Linked DNA regions of Homo sapiens: region 1 is linked to region 2. A link means that fine-mapping ties the variant in region 2 to the expression of a gene that starts in the linked region. Tissue or cell type: whole blood. Region 2 holds a variant in brackets; the other region holds the start of a gene. All regions are shown on one strand. Distances are from middle to middle.

Region 1 (11,254 bases), 42 kb after region 2:
ACTAAATAGCCTAATATCTGTTAATGGAATTATACTCATAGTAAAAATCTTTCCCCCAAAGAAAACTTCAGGCTCAGGTGGCTTCTCCATTTAAGGAAGAAATATTACCAATCCTACACAAGCTCCTTCAGAAAAGAAGTAATATTTCTCAACTTGTTTTATAAGACCAGCATTATCCTGATAAAGTATTAAGGCGAAAAAGAAATTTAAAAGATCAGAAAAGAAGTAAAGCTGTCATTGTTCACAAACAACATGTTTGCGTATGTGAAGAACCCTACCAAAAATACTACTCAAACTAATAAATGAATTTAGCAAGGTTATAGATACAAAAATTGACTGCATTTCTATATACACTCAATAAACAATTGGGAAATGTTTTAAAATTTACAGGCATATTTAAAAAAATCAAATAGCTAGGAACAGATCTAACAAAAGATGTGTAAGACCTCTCCATAGAAAACTACAAATATTGCTGAAAGAAATGAAGATGACATCATAAAAAAAAATGTAAAGCTATACCATATTCATAGATAAGAAGGCATAATATTGTTTAAATGTTCATTTTTCCTAAGCTGATCTATAGGTATGATGCAATTCCCATAGAAATTCTAGCAAGCTTCTTTGAAGAAAGAAAAAAGCTGAATCTAAAATTTATATGGTAATGCAAAGAACCCAAAATAGTCAAAACAATCTTTTTTTTTTAGATGATCTCACTCAGGCTGGAGTGCAGTGGTGTGATCTTGGCTGACTGCAGCCTCCGCCTCCTGGGTTCAAGCGATTCTCCTGCCTCAGCCTCCTGAGTAGCTGGGATTACAGGTGCCCACCACCATGACCGACTAATTTTTGTATTTTTAGCAGAGACGGGGTTTTACTATGTTGGCCAGGCTGGTCTCACACTCCTCACCTCATGTGATCTGCCCACCTCAGTCTCCCAAAGAGCTGGCATTACAGGCGTGCCAAAACAATCTTTAAAAAGAACGAAGTTAGAAGATTTACACCATCCAATTTTAAGATTTCTGTAAAGCTCCAGTAATCAAGATAGTGTGGTATTGGTGAAACCTAGACAAACAGACCAACGAAACAAAACAGAAAGTATATAAATAGAACCACACGGATATGGTTGATTGATTTTCAACAAAGTGGTGAAGTAAATCCGATTGGGAAGGGAAAGTCTTGTTAAGTATTGCTGGAACATAAAACTGAATCTTGACTCTTCTTTCACTCCATAAACAAAAAATTACTTTGAGACAGATCACAGACCTAAGTACAAAAATCTTATCTATAAAGTTTCTAGAGAAAAACATAGTATCTTTCTGACTTGAGTCATGCAAAATTTTTTGATAAAGACCCACGCACAAGCTGTAAAAGAAAATACTGATAGATTGGACTCTACCAAAACTAAAAATTCTACTCATAAAGGACATCATTAATAAAATCGTGTTTCTGACAAAGCACTTGTAATTAGAATATATAAGGAACTCCTAAAAGTCAACAATATAATGGCAAAGTTGCAGGATACGAGGTCAATATAGAAAATTGGATTGTATTTCCATATACAACAATTATAAAGGTAAGTAATCCAATTTAAAAACTAAGCAAAAGATGTGGACAAATACTTCAGAAAATAAGATATACCAATGGCCAATAAGCATATGAAAGAGTGCTCAACTTCATTATCAGGGTAATGCAAATTAAAATGACAATAAAATATTATTTCATACCCATTAGAATGGCTAAAATTTAAAAATCTGTCTACCCTAAACGTTAGTAAGGTTGTGGAGCAGCTGGAATTCTCATACATTGTTGGTGGTATTGTAAAATGGTAACACCTCTTTGGAGATCTGTTTGGCAATTTATAATAAAGTTCACATATATTTAATCTGTGACCCAAGAATTCCACTCCTAATATTTATCCAACATAAATGAGAACATACGTTCACAAAAGAACTTGAACATGAATGTTGATAGCAGCTTCATTCATAACAGCCCCAAACTGGAAACAACCTGAATATCCATTAACAGGGAACTAGATAAACTGTGCTATATGTGTATGATGAAATACACTCAGCAATAAAAAAGAACAAAATTCTAATACATGTGCTAATATGGTAGGATCTCAAAACTATATTGACAGAAACTTTGAAGAGTACATTCATTTATACGAATCTCAATAATGGACAAAGTTAATCTATAGTGATAGAAATCAGAAAGTAATTGTGGGGGTTGGGGGATTGATTGGAAAATGATATATAAAGAAACTTTCTGGGGTGATAAAAGTGTTCTGTATCTTGTGTGGGGCAGTGGCTACATAGGTGTACATTTACCAAAAATAATACACCAAACATTTAAGATCTGCATTTTATGTTTACCTCTCAATTAAAGAATTAAATGCCGTTATTTTTTAAAAGAGCAGAAAATGAGAAGGTTGATTATAAATAGGGAACAAAGGTAGGAATTAACAGATGTTTTCCTGAATGGAGACCTCTATACCATTGAGTCCAACCAGAATCAGCAATTTTATTTAACATTTTTATAAGTTATTTGGAAGATCTTCAAGTGTGCAGATGCCACTGATCTCTTTCTGGTGGGGCCAAGCCAAAAATACAACACTATCTCTAGAGTAAGGCAAGTTTTTATTTTTTATTTATTTTGAGACGGAGTCTCACCCTGTCGCCCAGGCTGGAGTACAGTGGCATGATCTCGGCTCAATGCAACCTCTGCCTCCTTGGTTCAAGCGATTCTCCTGCCTCAGCCTTCCAAGTAGCTGGGACTACAGGCGTGCACCACCATGCCCAGCTAATTTTTTAATTTTCTTAGTAGAGATGGGGTTTTACCATATTTGCTAGGCTGGTCTTGAACTCCTGACCTCATGATCCACCTGATTTGGCCTCCCAAAGTGCTAGGATTACAGGCGTGAGCCACTGTGCCCCACAGGCAAGTTTTTAAATTTCAGGTCATGATCCATTGGTGAGTGGTGAGATCAACTTAGTAAGTCATGACCTGAATACTTTTAATAAAACAGATGAGACTAAACTGGAAAGTATCAGAATGTATATAATAACAGTGAAATATTGTTCTGTGAAATTTTTGTCTGAAATGCATTGGATTGACTTTTTTTTTTTTTTTTTTTTTCCTGAGACGGAGTTTTGCTCTTGTTGCCCAAGGTGGAGTGCAATGGTGTGATCTCGGCTCACTCACTACAACCTCTGCCTCTTGGGTTCAAGCAGTTCTCCTATCTCAGCCTCCTAAGTAGCTGGGATAACAGGTGCCCGTCACTATGTCCGGCTGATTTTTGGTATTTTTAGTAAAGCTGGGGTTTTACCATGTTGGCCAGACTGGTCTCGAACTCCTGACCTCAGACGATCCGCCCGCCTTGGCCTCCCAAAGTGCTGGGATTACAGGCATGAGCCACCACACTCGGCCTGATTGACTTCTTTCTAAGTGGCTCAATTTTTTCTTTTTTCTTTTTTAAGAGAGCAATGGTTACTCAGGAGTATAGGAGAGAGGGTAGCGGTCACTTATTGCTATAGCCCAACCAAGCTTTGGCTGCCCTATGCTTAAATATACTTAAGATGTGTGTAAAGACATACGTGTGTGTATTGAGACATGATGTAAAATGTATTTCTTACCGTGAGCTGAGATAAAAATTTTTGAGGCTTCATAAGCAGGTAAAAAGTGATATCTGAGCAAGCAAGTTGTGGGGATGTATAGGGGAGCTTGGGGCTCTAAATTCTTGCACAGGAAGGGCCCGGGAGTTACTATAGATAGTAACAGTATAGACTCATTCAGCACACAGTGTAAGGCCACCAAGATGCTGAGTCCCAATAGGAAAGAAGAGAAAGATCCCATCTTTCTCTTGTACGAAATTATGTTCTCTCCCCACTTAGAAGAGACAAAACAGCAGGGACGGCTACAAAATGGCAGGATTACCCAGTGCAGCTGCTCAGTGCCACATTGCACAACTCCAGAGGGTGCTCTCACACAGACTGCAATGTGAATAGCTCCCCCTGGAGTTGAGCGGTGCACAACCCAAACAACCCTACCAGGCAACCGTAAGTATAGTGATTAAGAGCACAAGCTTTGGAGTCCAACAAACCTGGGGGCCTGTCTCAGACTGAATCCCAGACTATATAACCTGGGGCAGGTTATTTAGCCTCCTTGAGCCTCAATTTTCCAAACAGAATATGTTATACATCCCTAGGGCCTATTTCAGTGTCTGGCATTGAATAACAATAAACACGTGTCAAATGCATCGAGCTAATACTAGTACCTGCCTAAAAGGTGGTGGTGAGGAGCAAAGAAATTGACATACGAAAGGTTTTTAATATCTACAAAAGATGACAGACTGAAATAGTAACATTCTCCAGGATGGAAAGATCTATGCCACGTAGGAATTGTTTGTTCAAATTATTATTTTTTAAAAGCCATAAGCTATGGAGAGAATAACAGAGTTTTGTTTTGTTTTTTAATCCTGATACGGTGGAAGTCTGGTAGGATGGGAACCGTTCTTGAAGCTTGAGAATACATTCGGAACAAATAAAAAGTAGGAAATGCATACATTTTGTTATTTACAGTTGTAGGGCAGGTAAGGGCAAAACGTATTGATAAACTCAAAGAATTTTAAGAATGATATTGTCATGAGCCATGAGCCATGGAAGCTGCAAGGTTTGGGCTCCCTCCTGCCATCGGGTGGGGGGTGTCGGCGGAAGGGGGTACGTGTCCTGTCCTCTCCCAGTGCTTATTTCCTGCTGGAACCGTGGTTTTGACGCAGCCGTGACAGCCCTTCATCCTTATTAAAATCACACAATGAAGCAGGTCGCCCAAGATTGAAAGCGCGTTTCCAGGGCGGACCCCGGTCCCCGCCTTTGGCCAGCAAAAGTACATTCTGGCAGGGAGGGATCTCTGAGCCCCGAAGTGAGGTCATGCCAGTTAGCAGTTAGAAAAGGAGGCATTTCTCACACTTGCTAAAGAGTTTGACGCTTGTGAAATATAAACAGGAAGCGGGAGCTCTCCAAGGCGACCTGAAGGAAATACACTGCCAGTTTGGTCAACTTGTGAATGCCAGTTCTCTAGGTCGTCAAGGGCACTGCCAGTTAAGACTGATCCCCTAACTGCACCCGAGGCTACTACTCTTCGCCCAGTCTCGGCAGTGACCCCATTTTTTTTTCAATCCTTCCCACAGCCAGGTCACTCAGCAGTGGGGTGACTGACCCGAAGCGCAGTGGGAAGGGCTTACAGTCATCTCTCAACTCCCCGAACTTGCAGGGCAGGGGAGCGCAGAGGTCAGTGAAATCCCCAGCCAGGCCTTATTTTAGTCATGAGTTTCCACTGGCTCCCTCCTCTGACTGTATCAGCGCTGCTCACACCGCGGGATTGGAGTTTCAGCTGTTTTCCCTGCTCCCGGCTGAGTGAGAAGGTCACAGAGCCCGGACCTTTCCGGGGGAGGTGGGTGGGGCCCTCCGGCAGCCTAAGTGAGATTGCAGAGATCTGGGGCCGCTGGAGGAGGTCCTTCCGCCCCGGGCTTGGGGCTTTGGGTTAGCTTCTCCCCCGCTTCTCTACCTAGGCATCTCGGTTACAATGAAATTAAAAACAAAACACAAAGCAACACAAGTTCTCATTGTTTTTCCCCTCTGTCAGCCAGTGGCCTCGATACAATTTTCCCAGGGCTGCCTTTCCTTTATTGCTCAATTTAACCTCTTCCTAGAGGTTCTGCAAGTTCAAGGGCAGGATCCGTGTCGGATTCATCAACTAGTGCAGCGCCTAGTGCAGAGCAGGGGGCTCAAGAAATACGTGTCGACCGCATGATTGCTAAGATTTCCCTGTAACAGGCGGTTTTTTTTTCTTGTCTCTCTCATCCCTCCTGCCCTGGGTGCAGACCGCGAACAGCGCCGCCGAACTTCCCAACAGGCAGGGAGAGGGCCGATCCGGGCTGGCACGCCACGTCCCCGGGGTCTCAGTCCCTGGGTCAACGCAGAGAGGCTCGCGGTCCGCGGTGCTACGACCTGAGCCCGGCCACGTGAAGCGTCACGCCCTGCGCTGCTGCAGGGCAGGCGCCGCCGCCGCGGTTGTGTAACGCTGCAGCCGGAGGGGAGGCGACCGGGGCGCCTCTGCTCCGGAGGGGGCAGAGGAGGGAGGGAGCGCCGGGCACAGCGCCCGGTATCTTTCTGCGCTTGACTGGCCGGGAGGAAGGGGGTGACACTGGGGCACCCAGGGGGCTGCGCAACCGGGTGCCCGCCCGCCCGCAGGTTGTGCCCAGGAGCGGAGCTCCTGGGAGCGAGGGGCCCTCGGCTCACACCCTCCACGGTCAGGTGCGCGCGGCGTGCTCGGCGGCAGCCTCAGCTGCCCCTGCGCTTGGCCGTCGGCCCGCTTCCCATGGGGTGACATCCGCCCCGCCCCTCGGTCCCTCCCCAAGGCGGGCAATTCCTGGACGCGAGGGTGAGCAGTGGGGGCAGGGAAGCCAGGACGGAAAGAAACCCCAGCCTCTGGGGAAGGCTGGGGGGCCGGGCGACTCCCTCCGCAGCGCGCCGGTTCCTCCAAGCGGGCCGGGCGGGGGAGGAGGAAGAGGGCTGGGCTGGAGCTAGCAAGGGGATATTCCTCTCCCGGCTTGAGTCAGACGCGGGCGGATCCGTCCTCCCCCGTTCCCTCCCAGGAGACGGGAACTTACTTCATTTCCCTGGGGCAGGTTCGCCCACGTTACCAACTTCTCCCCCTCCCCCAGCACCCCCGTCCCTTCCAGCTTCCGCGCCCCCCACCCAACTGGGCAGGACCCAGGTCGTGCTGCCACCCCCTCTTCGGGGAAAGGCGGCCGCAGCCGCAGACACCTGGGGGCCGGGGCTGGGGGTGGGGGCTCCCTAGCAGCCGCCGGAGCGTTGTCCAACACGTGAGACTCATGTGATGAAGCCGGGGGAGGGCGGGCAGGTCGCTCCTTCCCTCCCCGGCAGTGGCCAGACGTGCCTGGAGTCACAGGGTAGAACACGTAGCTCCAACCCACCCACTCGCTCCCATTTAACCCAGCCCGCAGCCTCTCCATTACTCCTCGGCTTGCCCCCCCACCCCCCCACTCCGCCCTAACCGCCCCCCCCTCACCCGCTCCCTCCCGCCTCCCCGCCCGCCCCACTTCTCATTCACTTGGCTCGCACGGCGCAGACAGACCGCGCAGGGAGCACACACCGCCAGTCTGTGCGCTGAGTCGGAGCCAGAGGCCGCGGGGACACCGGGCCATGCACGCCCCCAACTGAAGCTGCATCTCAAAGCCGAAGATTCCAGCAGCCCAGGGGATTTCAAAGAGCTCAGACTCAGAGGAACATCTGCGGAGAGACCCCCGAAGCCCTCTCCAGGGCAGTCCTCATCCAGACGCTCCGCTAGTGCAGACAGGAGCGCGCAGTGGCCCCGGCTCGCCGCGCCATGGAGCGGATCCCCAGCGCGCAACCACCCCCCGCCTGCCTGCCCAAAGCACCGGGACTGGAGCACGGAGACCTACCAGGGTAAGTTGGCACTCCTTGGCCCTTCAAGCCTCAACTGCAGCCCCATGTTATGCGCCACTCTCAACTTGGAGCAGCTCCGGGCGCACCGGGAGGTTCTTGCCCGGCAGAACGCCTGCAGCCGTGCGCAAGCAGTCACGACCCTTCCTGGTCTCTCTTCCTGCAGGATGTACCCTGCCCACATGTACCAAGTGTACAAGTCAAGACGGGGAATAAAGCGGAGCGAGGACAGCAAGGTAAGCAAGTGCACCCCTAGGGACCCTGCGCTCAGCCCCTCGCGCGCGCTGAGTTTCCAAGAAAAGTTTTCTCGCTTTGAGGTTGGCGAGGGGATGCAGGGTGTGGGCTCGGTGCCTCTTCTGAGTGACTTGGAAAAGAAAGGGCAGACGATGGTTCTGGGTGCTACTCTGCTACTCTGCTCCTCTGCCGGACTGTTGCTGCGGGGCTGGGAGGATAGGCTTCTCATCTCCTTCCCCAAGCGCCCACCGCCTCCCCGTGCGTCTTGCAGGAGACCTACAAATTGCCGCACCGGCTCATCGAGAAAAAGAGACGTGACCGGATTAACGAGTGCATCGCCCAGCTGAAGGATCTCCTACCCGAACATCTCAAACTTACAGTAAGTGAGAAGCTGGCCCCTTTCCAACCCAGTCCTTTGCCCAGAGGGCGGGCGGGTCACTCGCCGCCTGCAGGTTCCGCGGGGAACTGCAGACCAGACTGGCGGATCAGAGCTGGCGGGTGGCTCTGCGGTGGGGTCCTCCTCCACAGTCCTGGCGTTTTCTGGCTGACTCATGCAAATGAGGCGAGAACCACTTGGACCTCTCCAAGTTGGCTCCAACACCAACTGGCCTTCCTTTTCAGGAGTTTAACTTCTGGTGATTTTCAGGATTCCCTAGTTTTTCTCACTTAAAGGAACACGCCAAGAAACACACACATTTTATTTACCCCTTCCCCTCTACCACTCCCCCCACCTTTTTTGTTGTTGTTGTCAAATAAGGGGACTTGCTTTGGTGTGTGATTTTTACGGCCTGTCCTTTCTTGACAGTAGCCCTCGGCTACTTCGCAGCCTTTGGTTGGGGAAATGGAAAAAAAAAAAATAGTATTTCGGGAGGAACAAAAAAGCCTGGATGAGCTGGAAGTTCTGAAAGGGTGTAAGGAAAGAAGTAGGGAAAGCCTCTTGGCTGCCAGACGTAATAGAGGTCCCTCTCTGAGTTGACACCACTGCAGGAAAATGTTATCTCTGGATTCCCCTGAGTTAAGGTCGGCAGAGGCTGCTGGAGAAATTTATCTGTCAAAGGATTTTCCTGAGGTAGTTGCAGCTTCCAAAATGCCTCCAAAGACAGGTGGCACCCGTTTTTTTAAATTATTTAATTATATATATATATTATATATATATACACACACACACACACACACACACACACACACATATATGAGTGTATCTGTCTATCTTTTTAAAAGCATGACCTACAGACTTAAAACAGCCAACCAGGAAACACTATTCCACTTTTTTTTTTCTTTTCTCATTTCTCATTGCTAATAAATGTCCCAAAGGTGGGACTTCTCTGACCTCACCGCTGACTAAGGCTCTTTTCCTTCCAGACTTTGGGTCACTTGGAAAAAGCAGTGGTTCTTGAACTTACCTTGAAGCATGTGAAAGCACTAACAAACCTAATTGATCAGCAGCAGCAGAAAATCATTGCCCTGCAGAGTGGTTTACAAGCTGGTGAGTGCTGATTCTGGCTATGCTCTCTTTAAGAGTTTGAGTGCAAATAGAGAGCCCGTGGGCTCAACATCTGATGTAATAAACATTACTGCAACAAATTGCTTATGCACGTTCATTGGGGGAGATGCAGTTTTATCTTTCCTAAAAGGTCAGACTTTTCATTTGAAATGCATTGTGCCACCTGGCATGAATACGTATTAGTGAAATGATAAGATATTCCTGTGGCATTTTAGCTTGAGAGTCTCTGGGTTCTGGGAGATTTCCCTACTCCCTTTTAAAATGCCAAGGCACCTATAATTTGCATTGTGGGTGTTTTACAGTTGGTCTTCTTAGCCCTCTTTCATTGGAGAAGAAATCATGGGTATGCCCCAGCGTTTTCCTGTTTCTTTGCTTCCTTGTCACTTGGTGTGTGGTGTGATCCTGGCAGGATACAGCAGGAGTTTTTCCTGCATTTCATGTGGTTCCCTGAATAGCCACTAGGTATCTTGGTGAATTGCACAATCTAGCGAAACCACTGAAGTTTCATCATTCGTTTCTACTGACTTCCAGATAATCGGAGTCAACCTTCTAACCTTCTAGTCTCACTTCTTCCAAATAATACTGTACAGACTGGGGAGAATTATTCTACCCACTCCCTCATTTCATGCTTGTCTGCCTTCCTCTCGAAGGCTCGTATGATGAAAATTGCAAAAACCCAGCTAGTGCTTCTGCCTGTTTCCTCATTCAAAATAGGAAGATGGTCATACCTAATGTCTTGAGGATCATGGATAGAATATGTGGAGAAGACATAGAAATAGCCTAATTAAAGGTCACAGCATGACTGCAACTTTTACAAATCATTGAAAATAAGTTTACTTTAGGTGATTGTTGTTTCTTCATTCTTTTCCTCATTTTATAACTATCCAGCCTCTGCCCATTTTGCCACGGTGCAATGTTGTATGCATTGACTCTTAGGTTTATAAATACATCAGAATGTTCTTTGCTGCCTCGCTTACATGGAAAACTCACAAACCACCTATACAATCCAAAAGAGGGGAAACAGCTCATCTCATATTAATTATGGTCCATTTCCATGATAGGATATTATGCAACCATTAAAAATCATATTTTATCTGAGTGTTAGTATATGGATTATTTTAATTATTTATACTTTTCAGTGTAATTCTTCTCTGAGCATACTACTTTTGGAGTTAGGAACACAAATCAGTAAATGCATTTTTTTTTTTAACAAAAACTAAAGCACCTGGTTTTTTGGAGTATAGTTTCCAGGTGCGCCACAGGCCTTCTGAAACGTTTTCCTTCGGATTTTTCTTTCCCCAGGTGAGCTGTCAGGGAGAAATGTCGAAACAGGTCAAGAGATGTTCTGCTCAGGTTTCCAGACATGTGCCCGGGAGGTGCTTCAGTATCTGGCCAAGCACGAGAACACTCGGGACCTGAAGTCTTCGCAGCTTGTCACCCACCTCCACCGGGTGGTCTCGGAGCTGCTGCAGGGTGGTACCTCCAGGAAGCCATCAGACCCAGCTCCCAAAGTGATGGACTTCAAGGAAAAACCCAGCTCTCCGGCCAAAGGTTCGGAAGGTCCTGGGAAAAACTGCGTGCCAGTCATCCAGCGGACTTTCGCTCACTCGAGTGGGGAGCAGAGCGGCAGCGACACGGACACAGACAGTGGCTATGGAGGAGAATCGGAGAAGGGCGACTTGCGCAGTGAGCAGCCGTGCTTCAAAAGTGACCACGGACGCAGGTTCACGATGGGAGAAAGGATCGGCGCAATTAAGCAAGAGTCCGAAGAACCCCCCACAAAAAAGAACCGGATGCAGCTTTCGGATGATGAAGGCCATTTCACTAGCAGTGACCTGATCAGCTCCCCGTTCCTGGGCCCACACCCACACCAGCCTCCTTTCTGCCTGCCCTTCTACCTGATCCCACCTTCAGCGACTGCCTACCTGCCCATGCTGGAGAAGTGCTGGTATCCCACCTCAGTGCCAGTGCTATACCCAGGCCTCAACGCCTCTGCCGCAGCCCTCTCTAGCTTCATGAACCCAGACAAGATCTC
Region 2 (11,770 bases):
ATTTCTTATTTTTTGTAGAGATGGGATCTTGCCATGTTGCCCAGGCTTGTCTCAAATTCCTGGGCTCAAGTGATCCTCCTGCCTCAACCTCCCAAAGTGCTGGGATTATAGGCATGAGCCACCTTGCCCAGCCAGCATAATATTATTGAGGTTCATCCACGATGTAGCATGTGTAAGTAATTTGTTCTTTTTTGGTGCTGAAAAGAATTCCATTCATGGATAAGCCGCATTATGTCTATCTATTCTTCAGTTGATGGACATTAGGTTGTTTTCAGTTTGGGCCTATTATGAATAAAGCATCTGTGAACATTCATGTGCAAGTCCTTATGTGGACACATTTTCATTTGTCATGGGTAGATACCTAGGAATAGCATTGCTGGTCATATGTTTTATGTTTAACTTTTGGAAAACTGCAAAACTCTTTCCCAAAGTGGAATCGTTGATTTTTGAGATGAGGAAGATCATTTCCTGGTAACTGGTTTAAAATCCAACCACTGCCTCCTACAGGTCCCCAACCAGAAGCATTAGCCTGCACTTCAGTGGCCTCCAGTCTAGATTACAGGTATGAAGATAAGGTTTAAGGATGGAACTACTAGAGTTGCCATTGTAGCTGTCCCTGGGCAGAAAGATATGTGCCTAGGGAGAATTTCTATGAAAAATTATAACATATTCATATTTTTAAGGAATAGAAAAATAAGGCAACCTTCTGTAATTGAGAAAACAAATAAAATGTTTGTTATCTCTGATGTTTTACTGGCAATTTGCATATCATGCCCCTAATGAGAACAGCTTCCATTTAAAAACATCAATGTCATATTTTCCCTATCACTTCTAGTGGTTTCTAATGCTGGTGTTTATCTGAAACATCATATTTAATTGGAACCATATCTTCCCCCTCCCCCAAGAACCACTAATCAATAATTTGGATTTCTGTCTTCAGAATAATAATCGTATGAGAGTGTGTGGTTATTTTTCTAAATGAAAGATGAAGTACTTCATCTTCTAAGGGTCTAAAGACAGCAGATATCAAATGCCCAGGTGTACTCAAAAGCATGATTACTGGAAAATTCTTCCATAGGTGAAATCTGCCATGATGAAATCTGCAGCTGAAGTAACCAGGAAAGAGAGACAAATGGGAGAAGGGTAACTTCAAGTATATAGCAGCAAGCAGAATAAAGAGACCATGCTAAGAGAAATTAGGAATTGGCCGTTGGTTTGTTCTTTTTAGGATGTTCTAAATCCTAAAGTCGTCCTGAGACGAAGTTAAAAATGGAGTGTGGCCATTGGAAAATCATCATTTTTTGCAATCGACAAAGTAAATATTGATACAGACAAGAATTGTTCATGGATGCTAAATCTAGGAGGGTGAGTTTGATGAAGAGCTGGGCATTTGCATGATCTTTAAATGTCTACCCACAGATTGTTAAGTGTAAAAGAAAAATAGTAAGTATTCAGTGGAAAAATCAGACAAAGCTTTGACCAGATTATCAAAATTAACAGCACCAGCATGGGGCAGATGTGTGGTATTATGGCTAGGTGTGGAGACCCTGAATCTAATAGCAAGGAAACATCAGACTAAACCAAAATGAGAAATACTCTAGTTTAAAAAGAGAAGGCCTGTATTTTTCAAAAATGTCACTGTCATAAAAGACAAAGGAAAGCTGAAAAATTGTTTCAGATTAAAGGAGTCTAAAGAGATGTAACAACTAAATACAATGCCAGATCCTAGACTAGATCCTGTATTGAAGAGGAAAACATGCTAAAAAAAAGAAAATTATTGAGTCAATTGACAAAACTGGAGCATGGGTGGTACACTAGATGAAAATATTATATTAACACCTCAGCCAGGTGTGGTGGCTCATGCCTGTAGTCCCAGTGCTTTAGGAGGCTGAGGTCAGAGGATCTCTTGAGGCCAGGAGTTTGAGATCAGCTTGGGGAACACAGTGAGACCTTATCTCTACCACAAACAAAAACAAACACACCTCAATACTTCAAATACTTCAGAAAAAAGTATGTGTGGCTGGAGGGAACGGAGGTGGAGACAGGGAGAGAGAGAAAAGGAGCAAATTATAAAGGAGAGAAAAATGTTAACAGCAGGTTTGAGAGCCTGGTCTTGGTGAGAAAAAAAAAAAAAAGAAAAAGAAAAAAAGAAAAGAAATGTTAACAACAGGTAAATCTGGGTAAAGGGAATAAGGATGCTCTTTGTACTGTTTTTGCAACCTTTCTTCAAGCTTCCAAATAAAAAGTTTGAAAACTCGTATTTTAGGCTGGGCATGGTGGGTCTCGCCTGTAATCACAGCACTTTGGGAGGCCAAGGTAGGAGGATCTCTTCAGCCCAGGAGTTCGAGACCAGCCTGGGCAACATGGCAAAACCCCGTCTCTATAAAAAAATACAAAAATCAGCCAGGGATGATAGTGATGTGTGGCTGTAGTCCCAGCTGCTCGGGGTGGCGGGGGTGCTGAGGTGGGAGGATCACTTGAGCCTGGAAGTCGAGGCTGCAGTGAGCCGAGGTAATGTCTAGATGACAGAGTGAGACTCTGTCTCTAAAACATAAATAAATAAATAAATAAATAAATACATACATACATACATACATACATGTATTTTATTGAACAGACAAAATTAACTTATAATAAGAAGAACCAGAAGAGTAGTTGCATTTTGGGGGGGAAATTGGTTGGGGATTTGAGGGAAACTTCTAGATGCAGGAAATTGCTTATATTTTGATCCAGTTGGCAACTATACAGGTGTATAATGTAAATGTAAAATGTAAAAATTCAGAGAAGCTTTACATTTAAGATTTTTGGACTTTACTATATGTAAACCATACGTTAATACAAAAGTAAAGAAAAAATGTATTTTATGCTTCTTAAGTGGGTGAAGAAAACATGAAAAAACTAGTATTTTTATTTATTTTTAACTAGAGGAAAGTGCATCTGATTGGACATACTCACTCTCATTTTTTCTGTTGTTATTTGTTTAAACCTCCACCCACTCCTGAAATTCCAGAAGTGACTTTAGTCCTTTTTAAGTTTAAATTTTTAACAAAAAAAGAAAAGAAAACCAACTGCAACTGCACACAAAAAAAGATTTCTTTAGCCAATAAGCACAACATGTACCTCTGAGTTCTATCATTTAATAGTGGATTTCAAATATAAGTAGATAGGACAGGGAAATCGCCTATGGGCCAATTGAAAAGTTAACAGCAAGGCAACTTAATTCCCACACACTGTCTCCTCTTAAAAGGATGATGTCGGCCGGGCGCGGTGACTCATGCCTGTAATCCCAGCACTTTGGGAGGCCGAGGCGGGCAGATCATGAAGTCAAGAGATCGAGACTGACCTGGCCGACATGGTGAAACCCTGTCTCTACTAAAAATACAAAAATTAACTGGGCGTGGTGGCACGCGGCTGTAGTCCCAGCTACTTGGGAGGCTGAGGCAGGATAATCGCTTGAACCCAGGAGGCAGAGGTTGCAGTGAGCTGAGATTGTGCCACTGCACTCCAGGCTGGCAACAAATTGAGACTCCGTATCAAAAAAAGAAAAAGAAAAAATGGTGTATTTTCCACGGAGCCATTGCTATAATTTTAAAATTCAACCATCACAAGCAGCCAAAATGCCAAGATACCAAGAACACTTCTGTTATTTCCGAGACAATCAGGAATTTCTTTCTTCCTTCTTTCCTTCCTTCTGAAGAGACCTCCCTATAATGCTGGATGTGGTAAGGTGCACGGCTATAAGTCTAGATTTCCAGCCTCCATTGCAGGTGAGGGCAGCCAATGAGCTTCTAGGAGAGTTCTTTAAAGAATATAACTCAGTGCCAGATGCAGTGGCACGTGATTCAGGAGGCTGAGGCAGGAGGATTGCTTGAGACCAGCAGTTTGAGTCCAGCCTGGCAGTATAGCAAGACCCCATCTCTAAAAACAAATTACACGAGCATACCACTCGGTTGTGGCACATTTTGTCTTTGGCCACCATTTTGTATTACCCTCTTTCATCTTCCTGCTGCCTGGAGGTCGTATGTGGTTGTGGGAGCTGTTGTAGTTATCATGTGACCATGAGATGACCTTGAATGGGAATCCCTTGTGCTAAAGATGATGGAGGAGAAAGCCAGAAGGGATTCTGGGTCCCTGACAACCTGACAAGTATGGAGCCATCATACTGGTCCTGGACCATCTACCTCTATGTGAGAGAAAAACAAACTGATACCTTGTTTACACAATTATCATTTTGAGTATAAATCCTATCAGACACAACTCCATTCAACAACTATTTTTCATATTGTTGTTTCTTCCCACAAAAAGCATTGAAATAATTAATCCTTCATTAAAAAGCAGAAGACAGTGTCCATCAACAGATGAATAAACAAAATGTAGTGTGTGTATACAATGAAATATTATTTATCCTTAAAAAGTAATGAAATTCTGACACATACTACAGCATGAGTGAACTTTGAAAACATGATGCTAAGTGAAATAAGCCAGGTAAAATTACAGATATTATATGATCCACTTATTGGAGGTACCCAGAATATGCAAATCAGAGACAGAAAGTAGAATTGTGATTAGATGGTGTGGGAGGGGAGGCAGAGAATGGGGAGTTAGTGTTTAAGAGGGACAGAATTTCCATTGGAAGATGAAACAAGTACTTGAGATGGACAGTGGTGACAGTTGCACAACGAGAATGTACAAAATACTGCTGAATTGTACACTTAAAAATGGTTAAAATGGTAAATTTTATGTTATGTGTATTTTCCCACAATTAAAACAAATAAAAATTAAAAATTAAAAAATAAAATAAATAAAAAACCGGAGAGCTGGGCATTGTGGCTCATGCCTATAATCTCAGCACTTTGGAAGGCCGAGGATGGTGGATCGCCTGAGGTCAGGAGTTTGAGACCAGGCTGGCCAACATGGTGAAACTCCGTCTCTACTAAATATACAAAAATTAGCCAGGCCTGGTGGTGCATACCTGTAATCCCAGCAGCTTGGGAGGCTGACGCAGGAGAATCTCCTGAAGCTGGGAGGCGGAGGTTGCAGTGAGTGGAGATCGCACCACTGCACTCCAGCCTAGGTGACAATGCAAGACTCCATCTCAAAACAAAAAAAAAAAAACAAAAAGGAGAGCATCAGGTCAAATCATTCCTTTTCATAAGCCCTTCATTGTCCTCTCATCACATTCAGAATGAAATCCAAATTCCTTCCCAAGGCTTACAGAGTCTTGCGTGATCTGGCTTCTGCCCCTCCCTCCAGCCTGTCTGGTGCCTCTCATTTTTGGTCACTTCACTGAAGCCACTTTGGCCTCCTTTCTGTTTCTGGAACATGAAGCCTTTCCTGCCTCTGGGCCTTTGCTCCTGCTGGTCCCTCTGCTGGGAGGCATTTCTCAGTTCTCATGGCTGACTCAACCTCACCTTTGTGGTTTCAGGTCTCAACTCACATTCATCTTCTCAGAAAGACCTTCTTTCAAGTAGCCTCTCCTTTCTCTCTCTCTCTCTCTCTCTCCATTTGGTTTATTTCCTTCCTAGCACTTTTTGCAAGCAGTAATTTATTTTTTAACTTATTTTTTGTCTACTTTTCCCTTTAGAATTAAGCTCCACAGTGCAGGGTCCTTGTCTTTGTTTATGCTCCACCCCAAGTGCAAGCATACTGCCTGGCACAGAGCAATCCTTTGATAAATATTTGTTGAATAAATGATAAATATATAAAAAGAGCTTTCAAGTGTCAATGAATCAGCCTTAATTGCATTTTTAACTATGTGAAGCTTGTATTTAAACATTCATTTTGAAGTTAATTTTCTAATAAAAAATAATAGCTCTCCTTGGCCTAGTTAGTTTCACATTAATGATTTTTATAAGACTTG[T/C]TCCCACATACAAGTATGATGTGGTAAAATATAATTTAGGAAAACTTATTTCCTTTGTATCTATTATTTAAAAAAAAAACTCTTGTAAGGGTTAGAAATAAAAGATTAAGATATTTATGTGTAAACTCCTTTACACACGAATTATGAAAAAACAAAGATCGTGGAAAAAGGAGTCACACAACCTTCAGACTAAATGTTTTCCAGAGTGAAAGTATTGCCTTTGCTACAAGTCAATAGGATGAATGCAAAATTCTAAAATTATTATGGCAAGTGGACAAAACAATTCCTAAGAGAGATGGAAGAAAATGGAATTCACATATTAAAATTCTATAACATATACAGAATTTTATTTGCACGACGGTTACGTGATAAGTGCACTATTTGTAACAAAACTGACAATTTCAGAATTATGTGTTCCAGTGACAGTTCCTGTATTGGGTAAAACTGTGAAATGAAAGGAATTCCCTCAGTAACTCCCATCTTCCATCCTCAGGGTGTTCAGCATCCCACCAATATGGTACACCCTGCCCTAAACTGACTTCTAAGGCAGGATTCCATCTTCCTATGCCAATTAAAACCTGCTGATCCTATATCCAATCCTTAAAGCCACCATCATAGGCAGAAAAGCTGATAAACTAAACCATAATGATGTGTTAGTGGAAACCAAAATGTCTGTGGACCAGCACAGATTCTCCACTAACATATGTTTTAACAGTGACCTTTTAAAGATAATGCCTTCATAGAAAGGTGTAGCTGCATGGCTTTAGTAGTGACATAGAGGGAGCATGGGAGGAGAAAAAGGCTTTAGAGGAAAGCGTAGAAACTGAAGTGCCTGTGGAACATGGAAAAAAAAGGGAAGACAAACAGGTATTTGGAATATGTGGGTCTGAAACTCAGGAGAGACATCTGGGCTAGAACATAGACCGGGGAGTATCAGCATGTGAATGGTAATAGGAACCATGGAAGCATGAGTCTGTACGACTGTCCAGAGATGGTCACTCCTCTTTGTTTCCACTGCTGCCCTTGGTCACTCCCAGAGCTTCTAGCAGGTCTCTCTATCGCCCTTCCTGCCACCTCTGTTCTCTTCTCAGTTCAGCAGCTACAGTGATTCTTTTGATGATCGGATGACTTCATGCTTCTCAAAATTCCCCTGTAACCCTTCATCTCACTCAGAAAACACAAATGCCTGACCATAATTTACAAGGTCCTACAGGACCCCGGGAGCCTGAGATTTCTTCAACTTCATCTCCTGATGTTCACTCGTTTCCACCACAGGGGACAACCTTCTTGTCTTCAAACCTTTCAGACATGCTCCTTGCTTTCAGGTCTCTGAAATACTACTCTCTCTGCCAGAAATGCTGACATAGGTACATGTCAGGTCTTTTGCCTTTTTTAAGGCTTTGCTCAAATATCATCATCTCAAAAAGGCCTATTCTGAGTACCCTTCTTTAAATTGCCCTCCCCTTCCCCTGCGTACTCCCTACTTCCCTTCCCCTTCCCTGTTGATTTTCTTTTCTAAAGCACTTATCAACTTCTAGCTTTTGCAAAAATTTATTTTATTATGTGTACATTTAAAAATTTATCCAAGGGCAGGAACGACTTTTGTTTGCCTGTTTTGTTTATTAAGGTATCCAATGTACCTAGAAAAATGCCTGGCATAAAGTACATTATGTTATAGTTTATATAATTTCTATGTAAAAATACAAATTATAATTTAAAATAATTTGTATTTCTACATAGAAATGATATAAAGTATAATCTATATGTAGATTATTCACTTATGAATTAAAAAATATATATCTTTTGAATATTGAATGAAATCTAAGACAGAATTCTGAGAAACTCTAACATTAAGTGTTGGGCAGAATTTCCAAAAGAAAATTGATAAGGAGCTTCCTGTAAAACCAAAGAAAGCTTGGAGATAATGCTGTAACTGAATAAAAGGGAAAAATATCTCAGGAACCAAGAAGTTCAACAGTGTCAAATGTTGGTCAAGAGTCAAATGAGGTGAAGACTGAAAAACCTCCATTGAATGTAACAACAAGGAGAAGGTTGCCTTGGTAAGAGAAGTTTCAATGACACATGGATAACACAACTTAGAAAATGTTAAATAAAGCTTACAAAGAGTTAAAACAAAAGAAAAGAGCATAAAAATTTAAACTATGAAATCATCAAGCTTATACAATTCAGATATTGGATTGTATAATTTGTCACTATTGTGGCTATATAACAGAGCATCCCAAAACTTAATGGTTTAAGACAGCAACCATTGTACTGTGGCTCATGAGTCTGTGGGTGGATTGGGCTCAGGTTGGCATTTCTTCATCACATGAAGCCAGCTGGTGCTGCAGCCATCTAGGGCAGGGCTCAGCAAACTTTCCCATAGAGGACCAAATAACAGATACATTAGGCCTTGTGGACCATATGGTCAACTGGCATGATGATTCAGCCATACCATTGTTGTGACAAAGTAGTCATAGATAATATATAAATCAAAGGGCGTAGCTGTGTTCCAATAAAACTTGATTTACAGAAATCAGATGGCGGACCAGATTTCACTGAAAGGCACTGTTTGACCACCCATGATTTAAGGGCTCAGTCTGGTGTGATACATTCAAGATGGCTCACTCTTGGAGTGCCTTGGCACTGCTCTGTGTGGTCTTCTGACACCCACCCTCCATGTGACTTGGGCTTCTTAGAGCATGGTGGCTGGTTCCAAGAGTGAAAAGCAGAAGTTGACAGGCTTAGGCCTGGAGCTTGCATTACTTCCATCACAGTCCATTGGTTAAAATGAGCCCCAGGGCCAGTCCAGATTCAAGGGAGCGGGTTATGAAAGGGTGTAAGTACCAGGAGGCATGGTTCACCAAATGTTACAGACCATCACACAATTCTAAGAGGTTTGCTTGTCAAAACTGTGTTTCATTCCACATTCTGTCTGGAGACCCTCACCTAAGGGAAATGTTTGGTGACTTGTGAAGCCATCCTTTGATCCTTTCAAGAATTATCTTCTTGACATCACTTTAAAGAATCCATGATTTGGCCAGGCATGGTGGCTCATGCCTGTAATCCCAGCAGTTTGGGAGGCCGAGGCAGGCAGATAACCTGGGGTCAGGAGTTTGAGACCAGTCTGGCCAAAATGGCGAAAGCCCATCTCTACTAAAAATACAAAAAATTAGCCGGGCATGGTGGCGGGCACCTGTAATCCCAGCTACTTGGGAGGCTGAGGCAGGAGAATTGCTTGAACCCGGGAGGTGGAGGTTGCAGTGAGCTGAAATCACGCCATTGCACTCCAGCCTGGGCAACAAGAGCAAAACTCCAACTCCGTCTAAAAAAAAAAAAAAAAAAAAAAAAAAAGAATCTATGATTCATTACTTAAAGACAACAGTTCCTTCCTCCCATTAGCTTGAGAAAACTCTAGGTCTTCTGACACCCACCCTTAAAAATGCTGTTTCCAATCCACTGCACTTAAGCTAAAAGGCACTACAACCCATTAAACTTAGATTACAAATATGATAGAAAATGGTTTTTAGTAGTAAGATTAAAGCAATCATACTTAACTACTTAAAGATCTATCAAAGTGCTGTTATTTTACAAAAGTAAACTATAATCTATATTAGAATATTCACTTATGAATTTCAAAAATATTCATTAAACATTCATAAATTGTTAGGTCTTATGCTAGGTTTTGGTAAATACAGCCATCATTTTGCTCTTAATGTAGAACTGTAGGCCATTAGTTGACCTTTAGTATACAGTAAAACAAAGACTGCATGAGATAAAATTTTCTCAGTGAAGTGGGAAAAAAAGGAAGCATTTAGGTTCTCATAAAATTATTGAACCACAAGAAAATTGAAGGCATATATATTTTTAGGTTGGTATTTTAGTGAACCATATGGTCTGATATAACCAGATCATTTTAATCAAACATTATCATTCTATTGATAAGAAGGTAATACTAGCTGGCTGGGCACAGTAGCTCATGCCTGTAATCTCAGCACTTTGGGAGGCCAAGGCAGGTGGATTACCTGAGGCCAGGAGTTTGAGACCAGCCTGGCAAACATAGCAAAACCCCATCTCTACTAAAAATACAAAAAAAATTAGTCAGGCTTGGTGGCATGCACTTGTAATCCCAGCTACTCGGGAGGCTGAGGCAGGAGAACTGCTTGAACCCAGGAGGTGGAGGCTGCAGTGAGCTGAGATTGTGCCATTGTACTCCAGCCTGGGCAACAAGAGCAAAACTCTGTCTCAAAAGAAAAAAAAAAAAGAAGAAGAAGAAGGAGGTAATACTAGCCAGGTGCGGTGGTGCACCTACAGTCGCAGCTACTCGGGAGCCTGAGGTGGGAGGTCGCTTCAGTCCAGGAGTTCAGAGCTGCAGTGTGCTGTGATAGTACCTGTGAATAGGCTCTGCCCTCCAGCCCGGGCAACATAACAAGACTCTGTCTCTTAAAAAAATACATATGTAATAAATGAAAACCATTTTTTAAAAGGTAATACTAGAACATTATGAGAAGAACTGATTTTACTCTTTAAAAAGTGTGACCCAAAAAATGCTGAACACGCTGTCAGAGATATGTGGTTGTAAGCCAGAGGATATGAGATGCCACCAGGTGAATATAGCACATCTTCCCGTGTCAATTGCACTTAAATGTTCTAGGAGGAAAACATTTTAACTGTTAAGTGCTTTAAAACATAATTCTAGCTGGGCATAGTGGTATGTGCTTATAGTCCCAGCTTCTTGGGAAGCTAAGGCTGGAGGATCACTTGAGCCCAGGAGTTTGAGGCCAGTCTGGGCAACATAGCAAGACCCCTGTCTCTAAAAATAAAAATAAAAATAAGGCATAATTCTTATCACAATACAATAAAGCTACAAAATATTTTAAAGGCCTTTACAGGTGAAAATTTAAATCTTGTCTATTAAACAACAATGAGGATTGGTCAGATATGAGCCTGTAAAAAAAAAAAAAAAACACTTAGGTGAAAGTGGGCATAAAAACTGCAATGGTGGCATTTCTAAAAAAGAATAGTAATGAGGCCAGGTGCAGTGACTCATGCCTGGAATCCCAGCACTTTGGAAGGCCAAGGCAGGTGGATTGTTTGAGGCCAGGAGTTCGAGATTTGCCTGGGCAACATTGCGAAACCCTGTCTCTACTGAAAATACAAAAATCAGCCGGGCATGGTGGCACGTACCTATAGTCCCAGCAACTCAGGGGGCTGAGGCAAGAGAATCACCTGAGCCTTGGCAGGTAGAGGCTGCAGTGAGCCATGATTGGTCCACTGCACTGCAGCCTGGGTGAAGAGTGAGACCCTGTCTGAAAAAAAAATAATAATAAATAATAATAATAATGAAATCACTGTATATGAGAATTTATGGGATACATTAGACTAGTGATCAGAGGGAAATTCATAGCCTTAAATGCTTACATTAATAAAAATAAAAAGAGGAAAACAAGTGAATTAAACTCCAACTCAAATAAGCTAGAAAAATAACAACAAAATCAACCAAAAGAAAACATAAGGAAAGGAATAATACATATTGAAGTAGAAATTAAAGGGCTTAAAAAAACAGGAAAATGATAAAACTACATAAATTAAAATGGTGGTTCCTTGGGCAGAGGGAAACAGTAGCCAACCTAATCAAGAAAACAAAGAAGAAAACATAAATCTATAAAAAAGAAAAGTGACAAATAACTTTTATCATGGAGGAATTTTTTTAAATCATGAGAGACTACATTGCATAATCATACATAAATAAATGTGAAAACTTTTGAAATGGATAACTTCCTAGGAATACAGTTTTACAAAATTGACCCCAGGAGAGAGAAAATGCTTAAGCAGACACATTTCCAAAGAATTGTTAAAGAAAGTTTCAAAGAACTACCCCATTAAAAGCCATCACACTCAGACAGTTTC

What was found.
Region 1: BHLHE40 starts here. The variant in region 2 is fine-mapped to the expression of BHLHE40 in whole blood (TOPMed, PIP above 0.99).

The regions. Positions count from the first base shown.
Region 1 is chr3:4,972,315-4,983,568 of GRCh38, forward strand. It overlaps BHLHE40 (basic helix-loop-helix family member e40), which reads left to right and starts at 7,123. Exons shown (of 5, transcript NM_003670.3): 1 at 7,123-7,484; 2 at 7,648-7,717; 3 at 7,987-8,094; 4 at 9,078-9,201; 5 at 10,522-11,254. The coding sequence starts at 7,405. BHLHE40-AS1 (BHLHE40 antisense RNA 1) reads right to left here and starts at 7,647. Exons shown (of 3, transcript NR_125916.1): 1 at 7,481-7,647. RefSeq lists enhancers at 3,736-3,915, 5,345-5,534, 5,655-5,704, 5,835-5,954, 7,255-7,404 and 3 more and silencers at 6,065-6,834, 7,045-7,104.
Region 2 is chr3:4,930,197-4,941,966 of GRCh38, forward strand. The region is part of intron 1 of BHLHE40-AS1 (BHLHE40 antisense RNA 1); the gene reads right to left. Among named protein-coding and RNA genes, the nearest start is that of BHLHE40, 43 kb to the right of the region's middle. The variant T/C (reference allele first, on the strand shown) is at 5,861.